4 linked regions of the Homo sapiens genome follow. The protein of the gene in region 4 interacts with the protein of the main gene of each other region in a pairwise test. Each region holds a gene or a part of one and is shown on either strand. Other genes may lie near its edges. The genes, in order: HNRNPH3, alpha-crystallin A2 chain, HLCS and SPATA46.

What was found.
Region 1: the proteins of SPATA46 (region 4) and HNRNPH3 interact in binary tests that used the Homo sapiens proteins (3 or more experiments, as listed by UniProt).
Region 2: the proteins of SPATA46 (region 4) and alpha-crystallin A2 chain interact in binary tests that used the Homo sapiens proteins (3 or more experiments, as listed by UniProt).
Region 3: the proteins of SPATA46 (region 4) and HLCS interact in binary tests that used the Homo sapiens proteins (3 or more experiments, as listed by UniProt).

The regions. Positions count from the first base shown.
Region 1 is NC_000010.11:68,338,564-68,342,063, reverse strand, and holds part of HNRNPH3 (heterogeneous nuclear ribonucleoprotein H3), read right to left. Parts: coding exon 3,377-3,500; intron 2,925-3,376; coding exon 2,838-2,924; intron 2,625-2,837; coding exon 2,509-2,624; intron 953-2,508; exon of another isoform or gene 891-952; coding exon 755-890; intron 480-754; coding exon 384-479; intron 306-383; coding exon 213-305; intron 87-212; coding exon 10-86; 3' UTR 1-9.
Region 2 is NC_000021.9:6,559,749-6,567,100, reverse strand, and holds the end of alpha-crystallin A2 chain, read right to left. Parts: intron 7,030-7,352; 5' UTR 6,319-7,029; coding exon 6,130-6,318; intron 5,182-6,129; exon of another isoform or gene 5,086-5,181; coding exon of another isoform or gene 5,008-5,085; intron 4,901-5,007; coding exon 4,778-4,900; intron 3,347-4,777; coding exon 3,137-3,346; 3' UTR 2,612-3,136; downstream 1-2,611. UniProt on the Homo sapiens protein: Contributes to the transparency and refractive index of the lens. In its oxidized form (absence of intramolecular disulfide bond), acts as a chaperone, preventing aggregation of various proteins under a wide range of stress conditions.
Region 3 is NC_000021.9:36,954,942-36,962,399, forward strand, and holds part of HLCS (biotin--protein ligase), read right to left. Parts: intron 7,418-7,458; exon of another isoform or gene 7,350-7,417; intron 7,232-7,349; exon of another isoform or gene 7,230-7,231; coding exon 7,095-7,229; intron 1-7,094. UniProt on the Homo sapiens protein: Biotin--protein ligase catalyzing the biotinylation of the 4 biotin-dependent carboxylases acetyl-CoA-carboxylase, pyruvate carboxylase, propionyl-CoA carboxylase, and methylcrotonyl-CoA carboxylase.
Region 4 is NC_000001.11:162,372,194-162,380,268, forward strand, and holds SPATA46 (spermatogenesis-associated protein 46), read right to left. Parts: upstream 4,662-8,075; 5' UTR 4,598-4,661; coding exon 4,495-4,597; intron 3,211-4,494; coding exon 3,097-3,210; intron 2,424-3,096; coding exon 1,855-2,423; 3' UTR 1,010-1,854; downstream 1-1,009. UniProt on the Homo sapiens protein: Plays a role in spermiogenesis and fertilization.

The sequences.
Region 1 (3,500 bases), on a different chromosome or scaffold from region 4:
TTTTTGCTTTCAGTACATCCCACGCCATCCACCTCCACTCATGCCGCCTTGCCCATAGTAACCTCCACTGCCTCCACCACCACGGCCTTAAGAAAAAGATATTAAGAATCACTCAGCAGGAGATATCTGCATAAAATAATAAAAGTAATACCTGCACTTTAAAGTTTGCACTACATATGCGGACTAACACAAACTGAACTAGAGATACTTACCATAACCACCCAAACCATCAGGAGTACCATATCCTCCACTGTAATTGTTCCCCATTCCCATTCTTCCAACTGATCCATAGCCTCCCTGATTATCTTTAAAAAGAAAAAAGAAAAAAAATTGAGACTCATCGATAAGCAGCTAACCCTGCATATTTTAAAAACTTTACATACCCATTCCATCTCTTCCGTAGCCTCCCATTCCAGAACCTCCCATGCCAGAGCCGCCTCCAGGAGTAGAATTCAAGAAGAGTTCAATATATCGATGTTCTTTAAGAAAAAAAGAAAGAGTAACAGGGGAGAAAGGAATGATGGATAAAATTCATCAATACAAGCTTTGTAAAAAAGATCAATTAAGTAATATTAAACAAAGTATGCTTATTAATTACTAGTACAGCGATATATAAAGCCCACAGAAAGCCATTATAGAGGTCAAATGGTTTTAAATCCCAACAACTGCCAAGCGTTACCTACAGATCTTAGAGCCTCTTATTTTATAAATTCACGTTTAGGAAATAAGATTGTGTGCCAAAGACACCACTTACGCATGTTATTTTTATCTTTAGACATGGCAGCTACTGCATCTTCATGTGTCACAAACTCTACATCTGCTTCTCCTGTGGCTCTGCCATCAGCTCCAATATCAATATGAACTCGTATTGGATTTAGTGGTGAGAAGAACTAAATAAAAGGAAACACTTATTTACTTTTCTATTGAGAATATTAAAGTAAATTACCACATACCTTGATTTTTCCTCATCAATTAAAACAAACCCTTCCACTGCCCTGTCAGACTAATAACTTAGTCAACTACAGAGGTTCTGTGAATATCAGAGTATACACTTAGGGATAATGTAAAGAATTTACTGCTTTTAAAATAAGCAGATAGGCAGGGCGCAGTGGCTCACGCCTGTAATCCCAGCTACTCAGAAGGCTGAGACAGAGAATCGCTTGAACGCAGGAGGTGGGAGCTGCAGTAAGCAGAGATCACGCCACTGCACTCCAGCCTCAGAGAGACAGAGTGGGAGACTGTCAAAAAAAAAAAGCACACAAACACACAGAGAGAAATACGGGATATCATGATTTGGAACTATGCGGTTTGAATAAAGCCACCTATTTAAGACTATATGAAATTGTTCCCCAAAAGATATCATTTGGTTCTAATCACAAGTTAGCCAGGTTTTAAACTATCATTAAAAGCAGTTGGAACTCAGGCCAGCTGATTCCCAGTAAGATCTAGAGCACACCATTGCTTTTAAAGCCAGAGTCAGTACTTTTGGCCTGAATGGCCATTGGGTCTCTAATGTAACCACTCAACAGGTAGAGGAATGGTGTGACCGGATTTAGCCCATGGACTGAAGTTTGCTGACCTCCTAACAAATCTGAAACCAACCAGTTTCACATCAGTGACAACAGCAGCATCTATTCCTGTTATTTCCAACTCCTCAGTTTCTAATCACCATCTAGCCTAGAAAGCCAAACCAAATCACTAATATTTATATATTCACTCTTTCAAACCCTAATACAGGTCAGGCGCAGTGGCTCACGCCTGTAATCCCAGCACTTTGGGAGGCCAGGGCAGGCGGATCATGAGGTCAGGACCAGCCCGATCAACATGGTGAAACCCCATCTCTACTAAAAATACAAAAAGTTAGCCAGGAGTGGTGGGGTGTGCCCCTGTAATCCCAGCTATTCAGGAGGCTGAGGCAGAAGAATAACTTGAACCCGGGAGGTGGAGGTTGCAGTGAGCCGAGATCGCGCCACTGCACTCTAGCCTGGGCGACAGAGCAAGACTCTGTCTCAAAAAAGAAAACAAAACAAAAAACGGTACAACAAAAGACACCAGCACAAAATGGTATAGTCATCACCATTCTATGCTGATCAGTCTTTCATTATACTCTTAACTGGACTTCACGAATGTAGCTTTTTACTTGTTTGAATCCTATGTAGGTTGACACACAATGGATACAAAAATATCCATCAGTGATTAGAATTAAAGGTAGATCTAATTAGCCAGGCGTGGTGGCGGGCACCTATAGTTCCAGCTACTCGGGAGGCTGAGGCAGGACAATGGCGTGAACCTGGGAGGCAGAGCTTGCAGTGAGCCGAGATCACACCACTGCACTCAGCCTGGGGGACAGAGCAAGACTCCATCTCAAAAAAAGAATTAAAGGTAGATCTATTTTTATATTCAAGGGATTTTGGTATTAAGCTATAAACATGAGAACATTAAGAATGCTTAAAGATTTAGACACCAGGATAAGTATAAAACCACTAATAGTTATTAAAAATTACTCACATTAGCAATGTCATTTTCAGTTGCACGAAAAGGCAACCCTCTCATATGTACGAAATGACCACCATGAAAACCTGAACTTGCATCACCAGCTCCACCATAGCCATGTCCTCCCATACCTGGAAAACACAATTTGCCAAGATTATAAACTATTACAGATACAAGTAGGGAAGTATACATACATACTATACAAGGTATAAAGCTCTATATAGGAATGCACTGAAATTTGTCTGAATTAACTTTATACAAGTTTCCTATATTACCACTAAGAGCTTGCAAAGCAAATACTAAAATTTACCTATGAATAAAAATGTCTTTAATATTTATTTTACCTCTTCCATCTCTCATTCTGTCATCAAAGCCATCATTCCCATAGCCGTAATTATTATAGCCACCATAGTCATCAAAACCTCCATAACCTGTGTAATTTAAGGAGAAACACATGACTACACACTTTCCAGAGATAAATTTTATAATTTAGTTTACAAAAACATTTTGTGGTAACAGTCTGTGTAACTTGATTGCAAGTTTGCAATTCCCAACTTAAAACCTATGAAAAAAGCAGTCAACGTGATGGAAATTTAAAATCTCAGAAAGTTAATTAAGTTCAGACATGTAAATTAAATTTCATCCTTAGGCAAAAAAAGGTCAAAATATGCCAACATCTTAATTTTAATTTCTGTGTAAGTTTTCTAGGTGCCAATATGTGCATCAGTCAAGTCCCACAGCTAGCCATGGGAATCCGTATTTTCATGAACAGGTTTTAAAACCTAATAGGTACTGAAATTACTGCCATTTCTGTATTTCTTGACAAAGTGTCAGGAACATTAAGAAAATGACAACAGAACCTTTGTTCATTAGATACACATACCACCATCATATCCATCACCTCCTCGTCGCATTCTGTCATACATACTTCCACGCCCAGCTCCATAATAACCCCCTCTTCCTCCTATTGGTCTATCATATGGTCCCGGTCGCTGTCCCAGCAATCT
Region 2 (7,352 bases), on a different chromosome or scaffold from region 4:
TGCGGCTCCAATGGCAGACATCGTTTCTGCCGGGTCCTGGAGGCCGGGAGTCCAAGGTCAAGGGGCAGCAGGGCCGGTTCCTCTGGGGCGTCTCTCCTTGGCTTGCAGACAGTGTCTCCTCCCTGTGCCCTCACGGGGTTGTCCCTCTGTAGGTCTGTGTCCTCATCTCCTCTTCTTACAAGGACACCGGCCAGACTGGGCCAGGGCCCACCCCAGTGACATCACTTCAATTTAATCAAAGCCCCCACCGCCAAACACAGTCCCATTCTGAGCCTTTGGGGGTAGGACCCCATATAATTTTCAGGGAGTCACCTTCCAGCCCCTAACAAGGTCCAGGCAGGACCCGCAGTCAAGCAAGGCTGCAGGCGTGAGTGACAGCTCCATTCACTGTGCAGCCGGTGGGACGGGACCCGGAGCTACCAGATGTTGCGGTGGGCCCGCCTCCCTGCAATGGCTGCCAGGCTGTGCAGAGCAAAGGTGTCCGCTCAGCTGGTCCGGGACAGACCCAGGAGGAGCAGGGAGCCCCAGACACCCCGATTTTCAAAAACATCCAGCCGCAGCCCCAAAGCACAGTGGGTCATGTTGTTGCCAACCACAGGGCACCCCCTTCTGTACAAATGGGGACTCGATGGCACAACAGCCGGGCAGGTCCTGCTGGAGGGAGGAGGAGGGGGGGAGTCTAGGGGAGCCACTCCCAGGACTCAGAACCCGTCACACCACGGCCTGGCCAGAGGAATACAAAGAGAGACAAAGGGCATGGTGTGTTGAGGGGTGTGTGTGTGTCTGTGGTGTGTGTGGAGTGTGTTGTGTGTGGAGTGTGTGGTGTGTGTGTGTGGAGTGTGTGGTGTGTGGAGTGTGCGGTGTGTGTGGAGTGTGTGGAGTGTGCGGTGTGTGTGGAGTGTGTGGAGTGTGTGGTGTGTGTGGAGTGTGTGGTGTCTGTGCTGCGTGTGGTGTGTGTGTGGAGTGTGTGGTGTGTGTGTGGAGTGTGTGGTGTGTGGAGTGTGGAGTGTGTGGTGTGTGTGGAGTGTGTGGTGTGTGTGGAGTGTGTGGAGTGTGTGGAGTGTGTGGTGTGTATGGAGTGTGTGGTGTGTGGTGTGTGTGTGGAGTGTGTGGTGTGTGTGGAGTGTGGAGTGTGTGGTGTGTGTGGTGTGTGTGGTGTGTGTGGAGTGTGCGGTGTGTGTGGAGTGTGTGGAGTGTGCGGTGTGTGTGGAGTGTGTGGTGTGTGTGGTGTGTGTGGAGTGTGTGGAGTGTGCGTTGTGTGTGGAGTGTGTGGTGTGTGTGGAGTGTGTGGAGTGTGTGGAGTGTGTGGTGTGTGTGGTGGGTGTGGAGTGTGTGGTGTGTGTGGAGTGTGTGTTGTGTGTGGAGTGTGTGGAGTGTGGAGTGTGTGGTGTGTGTGGAGTGTGTGGAGTGTGTGGAGTGTGTGGTGTGTGTGGTGTGTGTGGAGTGTGTGGAGTGTGTGGTGTGTGTGGAGTGTGTGGAGTGTGTGGTGGGTGTGGAGTGTGTGGTGTGTGTGGAGTGTGTGGTGTGTGTGGAGTGTGTGGAGTGTGGAGTGTGTGGTGTGTGTGGAGTGTGTGGAGTGTGTGGTGTGTGTGGAGTGTGTGGAGTGTGGAGTGTGTGGAGTGTGTGGAGTGTGTGGTGTGTGTGGTGTGTGTGGAGTGTGTGGAGTGTGCGGTGTGTGTGGAGTGTGTGGTGTGTGTGGTGTGTGTGCTGTTCAGTGTCCGTGGCACGTGATGTCACTGGGCGTCACTATGGCCGCCCACGCTAATGCCTGTTGCTGACTTTTTGAAAACCCGGTGGTGTCAGTGTCTGTGTTCTCCCGGGTGGAGGCTGCGCCCCTGTGGTCGTCCTGCTGGTGCCATGGGGGTCCCAGTGCCTCAGGGTCCCGGTGCCTTCGGCCTCCGGGGTCGAGGGCGCTTTACTTGGCTGAGGGCGCTGGCAGGGCCCACCCGCCGTGGCGTCTGCTTCCCCTTGGGTGCCCTCTGGCCCCCCGGATGCCCCTCGGTGAGCGCAGCAGGCAGCCAGGGCCCCCCAGGCCGAGTCTCCCTCCCCGTGGCGGGGTCTGGCATGGCCGCCCAGTGTCTGGTCCCGGGAGGGGACAGAGCGAGCTTCCGCCTCCAGCTCGGGGCCATGATGGGTTGCCCAGGGGAAGCTGCCGAGTTCCAGCTCCTCAAAAGCACGAGTGCCCTTAAAGCCCAGCCCCGAAGGCAGCAGGACCCCCGAGAGAACAGGACGACCCAGCAGACCCCGAGAGAACCGGACGGCCCCGCAGAAGGAGGCCAGGGCTGGCGTCCCGCCCCGGTGCCGGCGCGGACAGAGAAAGGAGCCCGGCCTCCCTCCATTCCCTGCAGCCCCTTCCAGGTCCCTCCCCGCCCCCAGCTCTCGGAACCGCTCCCCAGTCCCTTTCCCATCAGAGGCTCTGCCCCCAAAACCTCTCCTTCCAGCCCAGTGTGGAGGGAGGCGCTTGAGCTCAGGAGAAGGAAGGGACGCAGGCGACCCCATCGTTCCGAGGCCACCGGGTCCAACGCGAGCAGGAGACCCCGCTGTCCTCCCTCCCGGCGCCGCCCTCCTGCCCCTCGCGCCCCTGATGGAGACAGCACCAGCAGACGGCGGGTTGCTTGTATCACCTGCTGTTTATTGATTGCCGCGGGCTGCGCTCTCATGGGCGACCCATGTCCCCAAGAGCGGCACTACATAGAGGGGTTGGAGGAAGACGGTCTGAGAGAAGAGGCCGCGAGAGCCCAGGTGCACAGAAGCCCCGGCCCCACGGGCCTCACGCGCCCCAGGAGGTGTGGGCAGGGCCCGCCGCGGAGGGAGGCTGCAGGTGTGTCAGGAGGCACCTGGCCGGAGGTCACCCCCTCCTTCTGGACCCTCAGCAGAGTTGAGGCGCCTGCACCCCAGGGGAGCCAGGCTGCTATCTAAAGGAGTGTGAGGTGCGGTCACTTCCGCCACTGGCCGGTGTCGGGGTCTGGGACACCCTGAGACCCTAAGCTCTCCTGGCTGCTCTCTCAAACCCTCATTCCATGTGAGAAGGTGGAAAGGAAAAAAGGGAAGCAAAGGAAGACAGACACCCCGCCCTCAGGGTGCTCCCCCCATGATGGGCCAGGGCTGCAGGGGAGCCAGCCGAGGCAATGCCTGCTTAGGACGAGGGAGCCGAGGTGGGCTTCTCCTCCCGCGACACGGGGATGGCTCGCTCGGCGTGGGTGGCATCCAGGCCAGTCTGGATCTTGGGGCCACAGAAGGTCAGCATGCCATCGGCAGACAGGGAGCAAGAGAGGGCCGACTGGTCCACGTTGGACGGCAGGCGGTAGCGGCGGTGGAACTCACGGGAAATGTAGCCGTGGTCGTCCTGGAGAGGGTGGGGGCGCACAGTCAGGGGGGCCACTGTGCAGGCGGCTGCCTCGCCCCATGCCAGAGAAGCTGCCCCAGCCCCACTGACTGCAGAAGGGGGCCAGCCTGCGGGGGCTCTCACAGGGGCCGGGTGCAGCCAGCACATCCCATGGCCAGGCCCCCTGGGATTTATGGATTCATGCCCCTGCTTCTCTGGACCTCAGCCTGGCCTCGTGGCCACTTGCCGGGCTATTCCCCGCGGGGGGTTGTCTCTTCCCGCTCCATGGCTTCACTCCAAAATCGCAGGATCATTCCAGACCAGGCCCCGCACCTCAGCCAGTCTTCCCCTTCCAGACCCCGCAGGACTGCTCTAGCCCAGGTCTCTGCAGCCCTACCTAATGTGGCCAGACGACCCACATGCTTCCACGTCCCCTGGACGCCCTAAACCGCAGACTCAGCTCCCTGGGCTGACCTCCTCCTCCACTGGGTGCAAAGACCAAGAGCTGGGAGCTCAGGAAGCATGTTCCAGGCTGGCTGGGGCTACGTGGGGGCTTTACCGGGCCCAGGCGAGGGAGGGGCAGCACATGAGGAGGTCAGCGTTCACCCCCCAGCACCACCTTCTCCAGCCATTGAAAGAGGACCCTGGCCAAAAGAAACCAAGACTTTGGCTAAGAGTTCCACCTTCCAGCCCCACTCTGCTCTCCAGCCCCCGCGGGGCACTGTCCATCTGTGACAGTCCATGAGCTCTTCCCGGCTCCGCCAGGAGATGCAGGTCACCAGGGCTCCAGTGCCCCGGCTCCCTCAACACCACGGAGATCCGAGGCCTCCAGCCGAGCAAGAGCGGGGCATCAGGGTGACTGTGGGGAGAAGCTCCCGTCCACCTGCCCGGTACTAGCTGTGGGACCCAGCAGGCTGAGGACCCCCTTGTTCCCCAGCCGTGCCCTGGAATAATGAGGACACTGGTTCCAAAGTGCTGCTGTGAGGCGAAGGTGTCAATGCCTGTAAAGCATTCCAAGCGGATGCAGCTATGCCGTCGGGGACTGGCTTCCTCAGGTAGGGTTCATGTGAAGATGTACACTGGCTAGGAGGCGGCCACCCGGGGCACTCCCACTTCCTGGGGTTCTTTCTAAGACCACCCTGGCATCCAGGTGACAGGGATGGAGCTGGCGACGGCTGGGTGCAGCCCGGGAAGGGACCCTAACCTGGATCCCTGAGCCACATTAGCTCGGGAATGGTGACCTCTGTCACCGGGAGGGGCTGGCTGTGCTCAGGTGGGCACGGCCCCTCCCTTGGGGAAAAGCCAGGCCTGATTCGGGGTCCCCTGGAGAGCGTCCCTCTCCCAGGGTTGAAGGCATGGTGCAGGTGTGCAGGCCCGGTCGTGCCCGCCGTGACCCCCTTGTCCTCGCGCCCAACTCGCCCCCCTCTCCCACCTCTCAGTGCCTGGGCTCACCTGGCGCTCGTTGTGCTTTCCGTGGATCTCCACAAAGTCGTCCTGCACCTTCACGGTGAGGTCCTCCGGGGAGAAGTGCTTCACATCGAGGAAGATGACGAACTTGTCCCGGTCGGATCGAACCTGAAATCCAAACGTGCCATGTGGAGCTGCCCAGAGGGTGCCGTCCCTGCTGGGGTTGGCAGAGACAGGGCGGGTCCCGGTTATCAGAACAGAGATGCTTCGGTCACCTGCCGGCCTCTTCTCCCACACACCAAGTGGGGCAGAGCTTTCGGGGGCCTGTGACTGTCTCCTGGACAGACAGGCATGACCCTCGACCTGTCTCCAAACCCTCAGGGCCAGCTGAGGGGCTGAATGCTACTGGTGGGCCGGCTGGTTGTTTGGCTATGGTCAGGTGGCTGGTTATAGATAAGTTGGCTGGTTATGGGCTGGCTGGCTACTGGTTATGGTAGGAGGGGTCGTTACGGGTTGGTTGGTCCGTTAGGGTCAATCGTCTGGCTGGTGATGCTTGGCTGGCTGGCTGGACTCAGCCTGTGGAATGAGGTCACTGCCCTTGGTGTCATGCTGTCTATAGAAGCGGCCGGAGCCTGCTGACAGCCTGCGCAGCTGCCTCTCCAAAACGCACTTCCACATGCTCCTTCTCACTCCCCTGGCTCAGCCTTGGCTCCCTGAGGCATTTTGCACCCTGGCATTGATGCCTACTGCAGCAGCCCTGGGGAGGACCCTGTTTATGAGGTGCTGGGTGGGACTCAGGCCCTCCAGAACAGCAGAACCTGCACCGCTCACCCGTGGCTCAGAGAGGAGGCCTGTGGTTGGGTGGGGGGGGGGGGCGTCCATTGCCTGTCCTTTTAGCCTTGGCAGGGCACCTAAGTAAACTTGCCAAGAGCTTTGCTAGCCGTGGGCAGGCCGAGCTCATTGGAGGAGGTGCTAGGAACGCCCTGCTCTCTGGCTTTCAGGACTATGACCCCCACCTGCTCCCAGGTCTCCGGGACTCAGGAGACCAGAGGAACCCGGGAGCTGGCATTCGCCACCACGCATGCCTGGATGGGCTGCTCTTGGGGTTTCCAGTATGTGGCTGGTGCCTTACAAAGCACACATGGGTCATGAGCTGATGGAGGAAAGCAAAGGTGGATTCAGGCTGCTCCCTTGTCCACCCTCTCCCCAGTGCCAGGGGAAGCTCTACCACGTGGCTGCAGTGGGGACACAGGCTCTCGCCCAGCCTCTGCAAGGGGATGAAGTGGGACGAGGCCACCTGCCTGACGGAGCAAGACCAGAGTCCATCGCTCTCCACCCACCGAGGCCACCACCCTCTGAGCAGCGAGGAGAGGCCAGCACCACGGGCCACGTCTTACCTCAGAGATGCCGGAGTCCAGCACGGTGCGGAAGAGGGACTGGCGGTAGTAGGGGCTGATGGTGGACGACAGGAAGGGCAGCAGGTCATACTCAAAAAGGCCCTCGCCGAAAAACTGGTCGAACAGCCGGCTGGGGTAGAAGGGCCCCAGGGTGCGCTTGAACCAGGGGTGCTGGATGGTCACATCCATGTTCAGCTTTGGTACCACGGGGACCTGGAGGCTGGCAGGAGTCAGCGGGGCCTCTGGGCAGCGCAGTGTGGAGCCAAGGCCGAGCCCTCCCTATATATGCCACCAGCAGAATGGAGGCATTAAGGGATTTCTCTGGAAAGGCGTGAGCTCATGAAGAAGGCTGCTCAGTCAGCAGAAACGTGGCTGGGACAAGTGCCCGCCCCCAGCCCCAGGAGGGGCTGCACGGACTGTCCCCGAGGCCTGGACTCAGCTGAGGCCCGCCTGGGCACCCTGGGGCTCCCGGGAGGGCAGACAACCCAAGGAGGCGCCTGTGCCCCATACTCGCCTGGGGCGACAATGGAGCTTCTCATCTGCCAGTCACTGGGCAGGGGCTACGTGCCAGGGACCATGCTAGTTCTCTGCACACCTTGTCCTGCCGGGGTGGTCCTCATGGTCGCCAGAGGAGGGAGAGCCCACACCCCCGTTAGACACAGAGGTTAGACACATCGTCGTCAGAGTCTCACCGGGCCTGGGCAAGAGTGCACTGGTTTCCAAAGCGGAGTGCATCTGTGAACCTCCGTTACACTCACCACTTACAAAAGTACGCATGCTTGTTAAAACTCGTGGAGAAGAAGCTGCAAGGTGCCATAATTCCAGCACCTGGGGGAGCCCTATGGCGTTTCATGCTTGTCCTCCAGGGGTCACATGCCTCCAACAGGAAGACGGGCTGGGCTGTGGGCAGATGAGAGCACCACGTGGTGAGCTTCCCTCTGCGGCCCACCCTGGACGCCCAGCCCCATGGCCATCATCCCCTCGATGTAACGCCTCGAGCGTTACATCTCGTAATGATGTAATGCCTTGATGTAACATCCCCACGTAACGCCTCGAGCCTCCGTGGCATGACCTGCCGTGGCTGTTGAGTTGGGCTGCTCCTGTCAGGGTGGCGACATGTCCCCACGTCCCTGTCACCCATGCGGACCCACCACCCACATGATCCTGTTATCCACAAGTCCTGGTGATTATTTTGCTCCTCGACCCATGGCCCCTGTCCAGTT
Region 3 (7,458 bases), on a different chromosome or scaffold from region 4:
ATCCCAGCTACTTGGGAGGCTGAGGCAGGAGAATTGCTGGAACCTGGGGCCGGAGGTTGCAATGAGCCAAGATAGTGCCATTGAACTCTAGCCTGGGCAGCAGAGTGAGATTCTGTCTCAAAAAAAACCCAACAAAACAGTTAACTGTAACAGCCTGAGGCAGGTCCTTCAGGAGCTACTGTGGGGGAAGGCATTGTTATCACAGGAGTTCACTGCTCCATGCACGTTACTGCCCGTGAAGACCTTCCAGGAGGACACATGTGCAGTGAAAGTCAGTGATACTGATGATCCTGACCCTGGGCAGCCTAGACTAATGTGTGTGTTTCTACGTTAGTTTTTAGCAAAAAAAGTTTAAAAAGTAAGAAACAGGCTGGACATGGTGGCTCACAACTATAATTCCAGTGCTTGGTGAGGGCTGAGGTGAGAGGACTGCTTGAAGCCAGGAGTTGGAGATCAGTCTAGGAAACATAGCAATTTGTATGTTCACAAATTTGTAGAGATAAATAAATGAAAATAAGAATAAAATTTTAAAAACAAAATTTTTTTTTAAATATATAAAATCTTAGAAAAAAGCTTTTAGAATAAGGATAGAAAGAAAATATTTTTTACAGCTGTACAATGTGTTTGTTTTAAGCTGTTATTACGAAAGAATCAAAAATTTTAAAAAATCAAGTTTATAAAGTAAAAATATGATAGTAAGCTAAGATTAATTTATTATCGAAGAAGAAGGCTGTTATAAATTCAGTGTAGCCTAAGTGTACAGTGTTTATAAAGTCTAAAGTAGTGACTGTTGTGTCCTAGGCTTTCACATTCACACGCCACTCACTCACTGACTCGCCCTGAGCCACTTTCAGTCCTGTAAGCTCCATTCATAGCAAGTGCCCTAGACAGGTGTACTGTTTTTTATCTTTTATACTGTATCTTTACTGTGCCTTTTCTATGTTTAGATACACAAATACTTACCACTGTGTTACAGCTGCCTACAGTATCCAATGCAGTAACATGCTGTACAGGTTTATAGCCTAGGAGCAATAGGCTACCCCATAAATCCCAGGTGTAAAGTAGGCTACAGCATCTAGACTTGTATAAGTACACTCTATGATGTTTGCATGATGAAATCACCTAAGGACGCATTTCTCACAATGTGTATCTGTCGTGAAGCAACACATTAACTATAATGTATACGAATTATGTAAGTGTTCAAAAACGTGGTGTCTGTTAATCCAGACAACTTAAAAATCTAAAAAGAAACTGGGAGGAGGGGTAGGGGGAGTCATGAGGAAGGAGCAGGAGCAAGTAGATGGACTCAGGGGGTGGGGAGGCACGTGTAGTTCTAGCGGTGAGTTCATGGGTATTTATTGTATTATTTCAAATCCACAGGTGAATGAGATCCATGCATAAACCAACGATGAGAGTACATTTGGAACAAGGAGTATGGTTAACCCAATTCTGTGTACCTAGAGTCCTAAAATGAAATGAAATATTTTAAGATATTTGAGTTTGTAGGCCAGGTGTGGTGGCTCACACTTGTAATCCCAGCACTTTGGGAGGCCGAGGTGGGCAAATCACAAGGTCAGGAGATCAAGACCATTCTGGCTAACACGGTGAAACCCCATCTCTACTAAACATACAAAAAAAATTAGCCGGGTGTGGTGGTGGGCGCCTGTAGTCCCAGCTACTCGGGAGGCTGAGGCAGGAGAATGGCATGAACCCGGGAGGCAGGGTTGGCAGTGAGCCGAGATCGTGCCACTGCACTCTAGCCTAGGCAACAGAGCGAGACTCCGTCTCAAAAATAAATAAATAAATAAAAAATAAATAAAAGTCCAAGGAGCCAGAATGGTGGCTCATGGCTGTATCACAGCACTTCGGGAGGCTGAGGCGGGCAGATCACCTGAGGTCAGGAGTTCAAGACCCACCCTGGCCAACATGGTAAAACCCCGTCTCTACTAAAAATACAAAAAATTAGCCGGGTATGGTGGCAGGTGCCTGTAATTCCAGCTACTTGGGAGGCTGAGGCAGAAGAATCGCTTGAACCCAGGAGGTAGATGTTGCAGTGAGCCAAGATTGCACCACTGCAGTCCAGCCTGGACAACAGAGCCAGACTCCGTCTCAAAAAAAAAAAAAAAAAAAGCCCAAGGAATTGGTTACTGATAGAATCTGGAAGTTTGTCCCCTCCAAATCTCACGTTGAAATGTAATCCCCAGTGGTTGAGGTGGGGCCTGTGGGGGAAGTGTTTGGGTAATGGGAACAGATCCCTCATGAATAGTGTGGTGCTGTCCTCCCTATAGTGAGTGAGTTCTCACAAGACCTGGTTGTTTAAAAATGTGTGGCACCTCCCCCAGCTCAGTCTCACTCTCATTCTTGCCATGTGACACACCTGCACCTCTGTCACTTTCTGCCATGACTGTTCCTCAAGGCCCTCACCAGAAGCACATGCTGGCACCACTCTTCCTGTATGGCTCGCAGAACCTCTTCTTTATAAATTATCCAGCTCCAGGTATTTCTTTATAGCAATGCAAGAACTGCCTAATACAGTTACCATATGACAAGGCCTCTTTGTAGTTCAAAAAGAAAAGCCAGATATTAGCAATTTCATGTGATTTGACCTACTTGATTATTTAATTTATATTTTCAATAAATTCAAAATCATTTTTAAAATAAAAATAAAGTTTATGAATCGTCTTTTCTGCATATGAAAATTAGCCCTGAATTGGCTGGGCGCAGTGGCTCATGCCTGTAATCCCAGCATTTTGGGAGGCAGAGGCAGGCGGATCACGAGGTCAGGAAATCATCCCGACTAACATGGTGAAACCCCGTCTCCACTAAAAATACAAAAAATTACCTGGGCGTTGTGGCACGCGCCTGCAGTCCCAGCTACTCGGGAGGCTGAGGAAGGAGAATGGCATGAACCCGGGAGGCAGAGCTTGCAGTGAGCCGAGATCGCGCCACTGCACTTCGGCCTGGGCAACTGAGCAAGACTGCGTCTCGAAAAAAAAAAAAAAGAGGCCGGGCGCGGTGGCTCACGCCTGTAATCCCAGCACTTTGGGAGGCCGAGGCAGGTGGATCCCAAGGTCAGGAGATCGAAACCATCCTGGCTAACATGGTGAAACACCGTCTCTACTAAAAATACAATAAATAAATAAATAAATAAATTAGCCGGATGTGGCAGCATGTGCCTGTAGTCCCAGCTACTCGGGTGGCTGAGGCAGGAGGATGGCGTCAACCTGGGAGGCGGAGCTTGCAGTGAGCCGAGATCGCGCCACTGCACTCCAGCCTGGGCGACAGAGTGAGACTGTCTCAAAAAAAAAAAAAAAAGAAAGAAAGAAAGAAAGAAAATTAGCCCTGAGTTCACCAAAACCGTCGTATCAACAGCTGGTCGTCTTCTACCAAACATAAGAGACACAAGTACTGTTTGACTGGACCTAGGTTAATAAAAGCTTTATTTTGGAATCTCAATGATCTAGATCTCTTTAAAACCATTAATTCGTTCTCTAGTTACTAGAAAGGATAGAAGCATTGGTTAAAATCTTATCTCTCACTTAGCAGCTGGTTAAAACCTTGTCTAGGCCGGGAACAGTGGCTCACGCCTGTAATCCTAGCACTTTGGGAGCCTGAGGCAGGCAGATTGCCTGAGCTCAGGAGTTCGAGACCAGCCTGGGCAACACGGTGAAACCCGGTCTCTGCTAAAATACAAACAATTAGCTGGGCGTGGCAGCGTGCGCCTGTAGTCCCAGCTACTTGGGAGGGTGAGGCAGGAGAATTGCTTGAACCCGGGAGGTGGAGGTTGCAGTGAGCTGAGATCGCACCACTGCACTCCAGCCTGGGCAACACAGCAAGACTCCATCTCCAAAAAAAAAAGAAAGAAAACTTTGTCTGTCACTTAGCAATGATATTCCTATCACTTTAGGAATGTCATTTAATCTTATAACCTAAGTTTTCTTATCTTCAAAATGGCAATAATAATAATGATAATACTTTGTAGAGCCGTTAAGTATTAGTGATGACAGCTGCAGCCAGTCTGGAGCAGGGTAGGCGCGGCCAGGGATACGCGCTCTGTGGAACCAGGGGGAGCTGGGAGCAGGCAGGAGCCCTTCCCGCTTCTGAGTTGGCAGGGCAGGAGCCCAGTGCTCCCAGGCATAACTGCAGCCTCCCAGCCACAGCTGCGGACCTGGGCATCCCTGCACTCTCAGGGGTCCCAGAGGCCCCCGCTTCCCCACAGGCTTGGAAGTGCCTGATCCCGCTGCCTGGCCTCTTCCTGCTCCCTGTGCCCGCTCTGATTCTGGAGCAAAATTGAAGCTGAGCCTGGGCGGTGTCGCAACCCGGCCAGGTGGGTGCTGCTCAGGATGGCGCTGACACACCAGCCCCCTGCCACCTCAGCCCCCCTCTAGACTTTAGGAGCCACTCTGGACCACGAGGATGGGAGGGAGGCCGAGGAGGGGCTGAGGACGGCTGGTTGCAGGCCTGTAGGCACCCCTCAGCACAAACAGCCTGGGCACCTTGGACAACATGACTGACAGCAGAAGGCAGACAGGCTCATAGGTAGAAAGGGGCGGGTCCCTGGTGACGCCCTGCCTTCAAGCCAAGACCAGCCCAAAACCTGGGGACCTGGCTGTCAGTTCCAGGTGAAGCCTGTGGCCCAGAGTGAGAACTTAGAGTGCTTTTTCTGGCCCGCCCATGGCTGCCCATGGACCAATCAGCACGCGCTTCCTCCCTTCTGAGCCCATGAAAACCTCAGACCCAGCCAGACTCACACAGAGGCTGGGACTACCAGCTGCAGAAAGGAGCTACCCACTTCAGGTCTCCTGAGAGCTGTTCTGCCACTCAGTGAAGTTCCTCTCTGCCTTGCTCACCCTCCACATACCTCATTCTTCCTGGATGCAGGACAATAACTCAGGACCCACCGAATGGCAGTACTAAAAGAGCTGTAAGACAAACCAGGGCTGAAACATGTCCCCGTACTCACTACATTGCAGGCAACAAGAAGGAGAGAAGAACTGTGGCCCTTTAAGAAGCCAAGATCTAGGGGCTCCCCAAGCCAAGGCTGTAAACACCCTCTTTGGGGCTCTGCGGTTCCCAGCGTCTCCATGCTTCCAGGTGCCACCATGTTCCCCTTGTCCAGACACAGGTGCCCACAGCAAAAGCCTCATTCAGTACACCTGGTCCAGCCACAGCCTTGCATGGAGCCACCCACCCCCCCCCCCCCCGACCCTGCACTTCTCACCCACACACCCCTTGCCGCTCTGCACCCAGCTTGCCCCTGGTAGGTGTGCAATCTGAGCTGGTAGAATGAGCTGAGTGCAGCCTGCCAGGCCAAGTGGGTGGAATAAGACCAGTGGGCACAAGCAATACTTAGGCAGAAGGCACCGCTAGCCACAGAGGTTTCTGTCTGGTGAAACGACACCCCAAGGATCCTGTGACATTAGGGGTAACGTTTATAAAATACCTAGCAAGGGCTCAATAAATGGCTTATTATTATCATAAGTGTCTACAGGGCTAAACGAAACATTACAAACCTTCAGGAGAGAACGTACTGTCTTAACACACTGCACTGCTCCAGGCCCATCTGCCTGATGCTCTGCCCGCTCCAGGGCCCCCATCAGAAAGTCTCTCGCTATCCTATACTATCTGCACCTGCCTCCCCTTATTTTGGTTCACCCTGAATTCCAGTCAATTACTTCTTGTTTACTTCCCCATTTTTCTTCTTCTCTCAATACAGCATCTTACAGATAATCTTCATGAAATGGGAATCCAGTAAACATGGCTAGCATCAGCAAAATCCCCACTGGATGATCTACATAGCAGGGAACAATGGCGGGTGAGGACCCACAAGTGAGGGGAAGGAAGCTGCAAGGGTACACTGGGGTCAGACCTCCAGGAGCCTCAGGGCATGGACTGCACCTGGAGGGATGACATCCACCAAAAGCTTATGCAACACTGTCCCAACTGGATGTGGGTCCAGAATGACTAACTCTGGCCATCAAGAGGAATGCCCAAAGAAGGGACATGAGACAGGGTATTTTCACAGCTCAGACAAAAGATAATGAACATGAGGATGGAATGAGGAGCAGTGGAGATGAAGGAGAGGAGCTAACAATTTAGGGAGTGCTGTTACAACTCATAACTTCACGGAAGCGAGGAGGAGGTGCGAGGAAAAGCCGGCTGGCGTGTTAATTTGGGATTTTCTCTCTTTGAAGCAGAAGAATACAAACACAACTCATTTTGGACATGTGGCTGAGGTTGAAGTATTTTCAGAATACTCAAGGAAAGACGTTTAGGACGTAGGTGGTGATATACCCCAGCCACTCAGGTTGATTTAGGAAGCAAGAAATTGTAGGAATGGATGAGATGACCTGAGAGAGAGTGCTGCTCAATAAAAATATAACGTGAGCCACAAATACAAGCCACACACGTGGTTTTAACTTTCCTAGCAGTGACCAGGCGTGGTGGCTAACATCTCTAATCCAAGTATTTTGGGAGGCTGAGGAGGTAGGATCCCTGGAGCCCTGAGTTTGAGGCTTCAGTGAGCTATAATGACCACTGTACTCCAGCCTAGGTGACACAATAAGACCCTGTCTGAAAAATAATAACAATAAATTTTTCTAGCAGCCACATTAAAAACATAAAAAGAAACAGGTGAAAATAATTTTACTAATATATTTAACCCAAAATATCCAAAGAGAAAGGGAGCCACAAAGGCTAGGAAAGAGCACTCATAAAAAGACAAATTTGAGGCCGGGCGTGGTGGCTCACACCTGTAATCCCAGCACTTTGGGAGGCCGAGGCAGGTGGATCACTTGAGGTCAGGAGTTCAAGACCAGCCTAGCCAACATGGCAAAACCCTGACTCTACTAAAAATACAAAAATTAGCCTGGTGTGGTGGCACACGCCTGTAGTCCTAGCTACTCTGGAGGCTGAGGCATGAGAATCACTTGAACCCAGGAGGCGGAGGTCCCAGTGAGCCGAGATCACACCACTGCACTCCAGCCTGGGTGACAGAGCAAGACTCTGTCTCAGGAAAAAAAAAAAAAAAGCAAATTTGGTTTTGACTAAGACACATCAGTTCCTTATGGGACACAAGTAAACATGGTACTCACTGTTTCTGAAGAGGATGATCTCTGTAAATTCTCACTTTGTACCCAAATGCTCTCCGTCACAAATGCTATGTGTTCTGCTTCAAGTATAAAAGGAGACACAAGAAATAGGGCCCACTTGTTCAAGTCTTCAATGGACTGTATAGAGGGAAAGAAATATAATGAGATTGTCACTTCATACCACAACTGCCATAAATTTCAACCCCCTCTGAAACATACCCTCCCCTATAATTCCAAGTGACATGGAAATAAGCTTATCTGATGCTCCTCTGCAGGCCGCAGGAACCGTGTGTTTCTTGTTTAGCTGTGACTGTTTAAGCACCTGCAAAAGCCCATCGATGACTCAGGACAGCTTTAATATCTCTAG
Region 4 (8,075 bases):
TATGGAAAGTAAATGAGATTGTATTTTAAAAGCACCCAGTAGAGAGTGCCTGGCAGTGACCCAGGGTACAGAACAATTTCCCTTTTAGGGAGCTTCCTTCTGCCTGCACCTGTGCTGCTCAGTACAGTGCTGGGTGCTCTTTCCTGCTCTGCTAAAACTTAGCTCTGTACTGAGAAAATTCCTGGGGTTACATTGATACAACATTAAATGTGGAATGTGAAAAACGCCCTGTCTTTAGGGAGAAGACACTAACCACGAGCACCTGGCAGGCGGGATGGGCACGTGCCATGGCACCTGGGCTCAGTCCCTGGCCTGCTTGTTTTCCTTCTCGTGATATGTTCTATGCCTGTTGTACAGATGCCATAGAGAAGGGAGCATGGGGTTGGCAAAGGACAGAGACAACAGTAGCTCGGAGTGAGGATTAAAAAGATTGCCCAGAGCCACTCATCTGCCCTTTCAGGGCACAGGGTCCTGGGAGTGATGTCAGGGCTGCCTGGAGACCTCTGCACACTGGACTGGATAGGTTGTGACCTTGTCCTGGATCCCAGCCCAGCTGGAGCCTGGCAGTCAATTGGACTTTGGGATGCAGGCTGGGTGGGGTTGGGGACAGAATGGGGTGAGAAGCATGGCTCGAGGGCACAGGGCCGCAGTGGTCTCACAGCACATGATGCGATGGGGATCGAGCCCAGCCTCCCTCCCACTCTGTGGGGAACGACCACAAATGAGGTTTTAGCAGCACACTGATAAGCAGAGCAGCTCTGCTAAGCCACAGATAAGACTCTGGAGGAAAAGCCTTTGGGAGGTGAGGGAGGACCCTCCACACCACCTGCTGGCCAAGCCCTGAGGGAGGCAAAGACCAGGGCGGGGGTTTGTGCCAGGGTCCCTGCAAGGCAGTGCCCACTGCAGTGGAGGGGCTACTGAGTCATCAGGGTGATAAAGCAAGAGGTAAATGAGGCCTGAAAGGATGACCAGCAAGCATTTGGTGCTTTTTAAAAACCACATTACAGTCAAGATAGATGTCTCTGCTGCATCCCTGATGCTTATCCATCTTTCTGGGTCAGATGGACCAGGAGGTTCACTCAGAAATGGAGGCAGAGTCAGGGCTGCCCACTGGACACATTACTTGGTAACAGGAAGCAATAGGTTCCCATGTTTACCTGCCTATTTTCACCTGGCTCAAAGCAGCCAAGAAAAGACGTCTCCTGGGTCAAAACTGATTCTATTCTGCCCCAGCACTGGATGGCTGTTCTAAGTGAATGATGGTAGTGCCTGAGAGCTCAGTCCCGGGTGAGCTCAGCCCCATCTGCCTCTTACCTGCCTTATACTCAGAGGCATATTTTCCTCCACATTCCCCCCTCAGAAGATCTACCGTCAAAGAAGCCTTTAAAACTGCAGAGATTCTTCCCCATGCAAATAGGAAAGGGCATCCAGCCCCTTCTTCCCAGGGTGGGGCAAGGACTGACCACATAGGGACCAAGCAGAGGCCAGAATCCTAGAGCAGTGCTTCTCACAGCTGAGCTGCATCAGAGTCACCTGGAGGGCTGGTTAGGACATAGACCGCCAGCCCCAGACCCATAGTTTCTGATTCAGTAGGTCTGAGGAGGGCCTGAGAGTTCCCAGGGGTTGCTGGTACTGCCAGCTGGGCACCTTTGAGAACCTCTATCTTAGATGATTTTCCCAAACTTCAAGTATTGTCTTTATTTTTAAAAGAGAGAAAGGGGAGGGTGTGTGCCTGGTGTTGCTAGGCAACCATTAGCCAAAGGTGATGAGAGCCGGGTTCTGGGAAGGACAGCAGGCTGTGCGGGGTGACCTCAGACTGGACAGAAGGCTGTGACTAACTTTATTGGCATCTCTCTAGAGACATAAGTAGGCTTCACCGCCAATTTGCCTAAGGTGTTCAGCAGGACTATTGAAGGCCTGGCAGCTGCCGGAGGAGAGCCTGTCTCCCAGCCGGGCCTTCTGCTCCTTGCTCCAGAGGGCTTTGAGCTTGCGGTAGTACACCTTGCAGCTGAAGCCCTCCCTGAAGCCCCTCTTGATGTGGCTCTTGAGGAAGTCCAGGGTGGGGTACATGCGGCAGCAGGCCACGCACTTGTAGCCATTCTGCTGTGCTGGGTGCCACCTGGAAGCCATTAGGATGTCCTGGGATGTGATGGAGTCCAGGCCATGCCTGGATTTCTTGGTGGCTTCTCGAGGGCAAGTGTTCTCTGGGGAGGAAGAGGACGAACAGATGTTCTCAGCCATGTCCTCAGAAAGGCAGTTGTCCCACTTGCCCTCATCCTGCTGCACCTCTGGGAAGTCATAGGCCTCCAGCTGGCTCTCTTTGTCTGCACACACGAAGTAGCTGTAGGGGGAGAACCAGGGCCGGTAGATAGTGCAGTTCCGCCTCAGCTTCTCTCCGTGCTGGGTATCCCCCAAGCTGCAGTCTGCAAAGGAAAGGACCAGGTCTGAGTCTCTGGCAGGGAGCAGTGGAGCCAAGGATGCTGGAGCAGAAAGGTAAGAAGGCAAACATCAGGCATGACCTCGGTTACCTCCACCCCACCACGATTGCAGTTCTGAGAGCAGACGCAAGACAGTGGTAAGAGCAGCCGAGGGCATTCCTTCTCACTGCATTCTTTTTCTAGGGGTACAAAGGGCCGTTGGATCTTGGGGCAGGAGAGGCTGCTTTTAGTTGGTAAGCCTTGGTATTTGTCGAGGCCTTCCCCTCCTGGAGACACCATGTCCACTGACTCCTCTAAGGATAGACACAGACAGGTGACCCAGCGGATAGCCAAACCGGCGGCCTCCCACAGTCCCTCTTTTCGCCACCCATGGCTGTGACCCTTTTTTCAGCCTCACTGCTCATCTTGATCCCTCCACGGCCCACTCAGCCAGAAACTGCTCTTGCACACCAGTTTCAGAGACAGGAGAGGGGAGGCAAGGCGAGAGCCCCAGGCCTGTGGGTGTCTACCAAAGGAAGAAGGGCCAGATAGGAGGCTGCAGGTGACAAGACCGCGCATGGGGGTCCAGCTTCCAGACACCTCTGCTTCCTTAGGGAAGCAGCCCCTTTTCATCCTTAGCCTCTCACACATTCCCGCCCAGAGTCAGAGAAGTCCTCACCTGGTGAGAGCGCTGTGTTCTGTATCCCTTGCCTGACAATGATGCTTTGGTACTGGGGTGGCAGGGCCTGAGCTGGGCTGGATGCCTCAGTGGGTACTGCTGTCTTTGCAATGTCTGGGTTATAGAAGAAACACTGGTGAGCTGAGCAAGGTTGGGATTCCACTTTCTGGGACTCCCCCAGGCATACCTAGGGGCTCAACCTCTGTACTTCAAGGCATCTCAACGCTGAAACAGAACAGTGACCTCTCAAACTCAGCCAGGCAGAGCTATTCTGGATGACATCCTGGGGAATTCTGAATGGGGCCATTTCATTCAGGCCTCAGAAAGATCCTCTGGAAAGTGGGATTTATGATGTAGCCCAGATGACACCTCTCCGCCTGGCCTGCCCCTCACCTAACCCTCCTGCATCTCATCACGCGGATGGCTTCACTCCGCATTGCCAGTCTCCTGAGCATCCTGGGACCCAGAGTCACAGGCTGCAGAGCAATGTTCCATGCCCGCTTTGAGGATTGTCCAGTTGAAACATCTCATACCCACAGTCAGGGTTCCCGTGGGCCATCACTGCACGGCACACCCTGGAGTGCTAACACTTGGACAAAAAGCTGACCTGCCTCAAATCCCAGAATAGCAGCTGTGTTCAGTTTGGGGGACAAATTTATAAATGTCATATATGTAGACAAATGGATGCTTAGGAGGCCTACTCCACTGAGCAGTACTTCTCCATTTTACTGTGCATAGAGATCCCCTAGGGATCTTGTTAATAACACAGATGCTGATTCAGTGGATCTGGGGTGGGAACCTGAGATTCTGCATTTCTAACAAGCTCCCAGACGATGCAGACGTTGCAAGTCTAAGGACCGTATTTTGAACAGGGAGTCCTCAGGGTGTCCAACTTTATTCCATGATGTGCTCATCAGTTTACGCTGCTGCTTAGGCTTCTCTGATTTGGCTAACTCCAAATCCTCTCCAAACTTGTCAAAACAGAGCTAAAACTAGTTTCTACTCTATGTAGACATACTGCCACCTTGAGATTTCATGCACAATCTAGGGGGAAAAACTTGATGATAAATGGAGACTGAGGCAGGAGAATCACTTGAACCCAGGAGGCAGAGGTTGCAGTGAGCCGAGATCACATCATTGCACTCCAGCCTGAGCGACAGGAGTGAAACTCTGTCTCAAAAAAAAAAAAAAAGTTTTCCCCTTTCTTCCCTTACCAAAAATCAATACACAGCAGTAACTACTTACCACAAATGCAGCATTTTGAAAAATTATTTTCTCCCCATGCGTAATTTGACTTTCTCACTAAATCATGGTCCTGTAACATGATCTGGTAGGGTACTCAATTAAAAGCTTCAAAAAAAACCACATCTTTGTGGCCCTAGTGGCACCAAAGTTTACCTGGCAGGCTGGTGGCACGAGAGAACATAATGTCGGGAAAAGCACTCAGGGCGGAGGAAGAGATTGGAGGTCCAGAGATGCTGAGGAGTGAGAAGTTCTCCATATTCTGACCACTGCGGGGGTACAGAGATCACACGCCTGCTCTGGAGAGGCTGGCTGGTTTGTCCAGAGGATAAACATTCTGAGCACAGTTGATGTCACAAGGCACATGATTCCACTACCAACTAGGTTACCCTTTGGAAGATGAATGGAGTCTACTGAAAGCAAGATTAAAATGTGTAAAGATTGTATTTGACTTGCCATTGCCCAGTGGCAGGCCCTGATTGACAATACCCAGAGAGAAGAATGTAGTAGAGATACTGTAGTGATGCTGTCTATTTGTCCCCTTTTATCTTTGTTATCATCAGTTTTCTGTGTTGACACTGTCTACCCCCAGCCCTCCAGCCCTGGAAACCTCTGTCCTGTCTGAATAATCTCCTTCCTTTTCTTCTCCTTTATCAGCCTAATCTCTGTCAGCAAATATTTTTATTGTTTTGTTTTAGTTTGTTTTTTGAGGTGTATATATTTTTCACATTTTCTTTGGAAATTCAAATTTGTAAAAGTTGCAGAAATTAGGCTGGGTGCAGTGGCTCAGGCCTATAATCCCAGCACTTTGGGAGGCCAAGGCGGGTGGATCATTTGAGGTCAGGAGTTCAAGACCAGCTAGACAAACATGGTGAAACCCCATCTCTATTCAAAATATAAAATTTAGCCATGCGTGGTGGTGGGTGCCTGTAATCCCAGCTACTTGGGAGGCTGAAGCAGGAGAGTCGCTTGAACCTGGGAGACAGAGGCTGCAGTGAGCTGAGATAGCGCCACTGCACTGCAGCCTGGGTGACAGAGCGAGACTCCATCTTAAAAGCTGCAAAAAATAAAATCAATACAAAGAACACCCTTATGCCCTGTATCCAGATTTTCCTATTAACATTTTACCCCATTTGCTGTATCCGTCCCCTTCCTCCTGCCCCCTGCCCCATGTGTATGTGTATATACTTAATTTTTTCTGTGAACTATTTGAAGGTAAGTTATAAACACTATGTCCTTTTATACCTAAGTACTTCAATGTGTATTTCCTAAGAATAGGGGCCAAATATTGTTTTCAGTGGTTGGTGCTCTTTTTAGCAAGTGACTAAAGCACAAATGGGTGGCTTACTCAATACTATTTTGCTCATTGCTTAAGTCAGTTTGATGGGGAGACTCTGGGACTCCAGAGAGGCAAGGTTGCCTCTTCGTTTCGCTTGTCCTATAACAACCTTGTGCACTAACGAGGTGTGGAATAAGGTGAAAGATGATTGTGACACTTGGAAGATAAGCTGAAGACACCCCTTTCTAGATTATCACAACATGTCAACTAGATACAGAGCAGGGCTGCAGATCTAGATGGCAGGTATGTTTATGCTGCATGGGGAGCTATGGCCGCTCTGGAAATAGTGATGGGCTTGTTTTGCAGTGCTGTCGAGCATGTGTGAGTGAGGTGTGAGTTAGCTTCTGCACGTGAGAGCCCAGAGTTGTCTTCCTGTGTGTATTTATTCACGGTACTGAAACATTCGAAGGACAATGGGAGAACATGATTCCCCTCGTGTTCCTCCCAGATAGCCTGGTTTGGAACATTAGCATGTATTGGAAAGTAAGTTGAAGCCACATACTTTGGCAGTTTGGGGGGTATCAGCAATTTCATTTGGTCCATTATGGTGTAGAGAAAGCTCATGAGTCTGGGCATCAGCTTATGTGACTTCTAACCCTGCTCCGCCATGAGCTACCTGTGTGATATTGGGCAAATCTCTCTGCTACTTGGTTTACCCATGTTATTAGTTTAGACTCTAAACTGGAATGGATGAACATCTTCCTGGCTAAAACCCAGTGACTGACATGTGGACAGTAGCATACTTGTGAGTGATGCACACAGGACCCCGAGGACTTGGAATTGCATTCTGTCTTGACCCATCACATTTCTCCGACTGCCAACTTCAGACTCTCCCACTGCAACCTCAGACTTAAAGTAAAGGGAGCTTAAAATACTGGGGGGAAATATGGGAGGCAGAATCTCTCAGTGCCTGTGTAGAGTTTTTAAAATGCGACCCGGTTTTGGTTTAGTCACTGAAAAGTTTGTGGGAGCCTGGCGGTTCCAGGGTGCACACCACTCCTCGTAGCAGGTCCCCTGTCTTGTGTGCTGTGTCCCCCCGAGGTATGCTGGTGCTGGTGGCCCAGGCAGGAGGTGACACTCTCAAAGTGACTGGTCACTACGTAAAATGTGTCTTTCTTTTGTTTGTTTCCCACCTGCTTTCCGAGCCCCTTTCTCGGACAGGTAAGATATCCTGTTTTTTTGTGGATGACTTACATCCCCAGATGCCCTCCTCTGCTTGGGTGTGTGCATGTTGGGGGGTACTGTTGGGAGGGCCACCTGGCTGGGGTCCAGTCATCTCTCTGTCCTCCATTGCCATTATTTTCTGAACCATCAAGCCTCTAGTCCTGAAGCAAGAGAGATAATGTGTGGGGGTCATTAGCGTCATCATCAAGAAAGGGACCCATTGCACATCCTCAGACATAGGGATAAAGGGACCCCCCAGCCAGAGCCCCACTTTCACTTTGAATAGAAGGGCAGTTATCCGGGTCTGACCTCAAGAGCCCCTGAAGACCACTCCCATAGAGGGAGTTTTGAGTGGTTTTTATAAATGGAAAAAGACTTGTGAGCAGTTTCCCTACAATGTCAGTCCATCATGCAATTTTTAAGAATTCATATAAAAGTCAAATTCAATTAAACAAACTTATTAAATGCCTACTATCGTGCAAGACCCTAAGCTGGGCATTGTAGAAGATAAAGAAACACTTCAGGAGCTATGGCCCTCAAGGACCTTACCATTTTAAGACAAGGTGTATTTACTGGAAAGACTTAGACAAGGGTAAAGGGAGTGCATGGTAGGCTATCTTTACATTACTTAAGAATTCAGTGCGTTATAGACTATGTTATGAAGGGTAGAGAGCAAAAAATACAGGAAATCCAAAATGGTGCATAATCCAGAGTTCTGTTTATTACAAAGAGTGTTTTAAAAATAATAATAGCTTATAATTTACTAATCACCTTGACAGGTGTTTTTGGTGCTTGCCTTTTTAAAAACGAGTATGTCTGCTCTGAAAAGTCACTTTAAACCAATAAGGAGACCACCAGGGAAATGTCTGATTTGGGAAGTGGTGGCAATTTGCCTTCCCCGGGCATTTCGTACAGTTTCATTGTTGTCTATGTACTTTCTGGTTTGGGGGGAAATAGTTAAATGGTTTGGTTTCCAAATCTTCTTTGCTAGTTTGCGGATGACGTGATTAAAGAAAATAAGAAGGATGTGGGACCTGACAGGCAAATTGTGCCAAAGTGGATGATGTGGCAAGATACACACTTAGGAGAATCATCAGGAGTTGATGACCCTGCTTGCTGTGGAGCGGGCTGGAAGCTTCTGCTGGTGTGGTGGGTCTATCTGGAGCCCAGCCAGCTTGGGCCCTGTGTCCCAGGGATGCTGTCATGCTGTTCCCTGGCAGGTCCTCACCCTGCA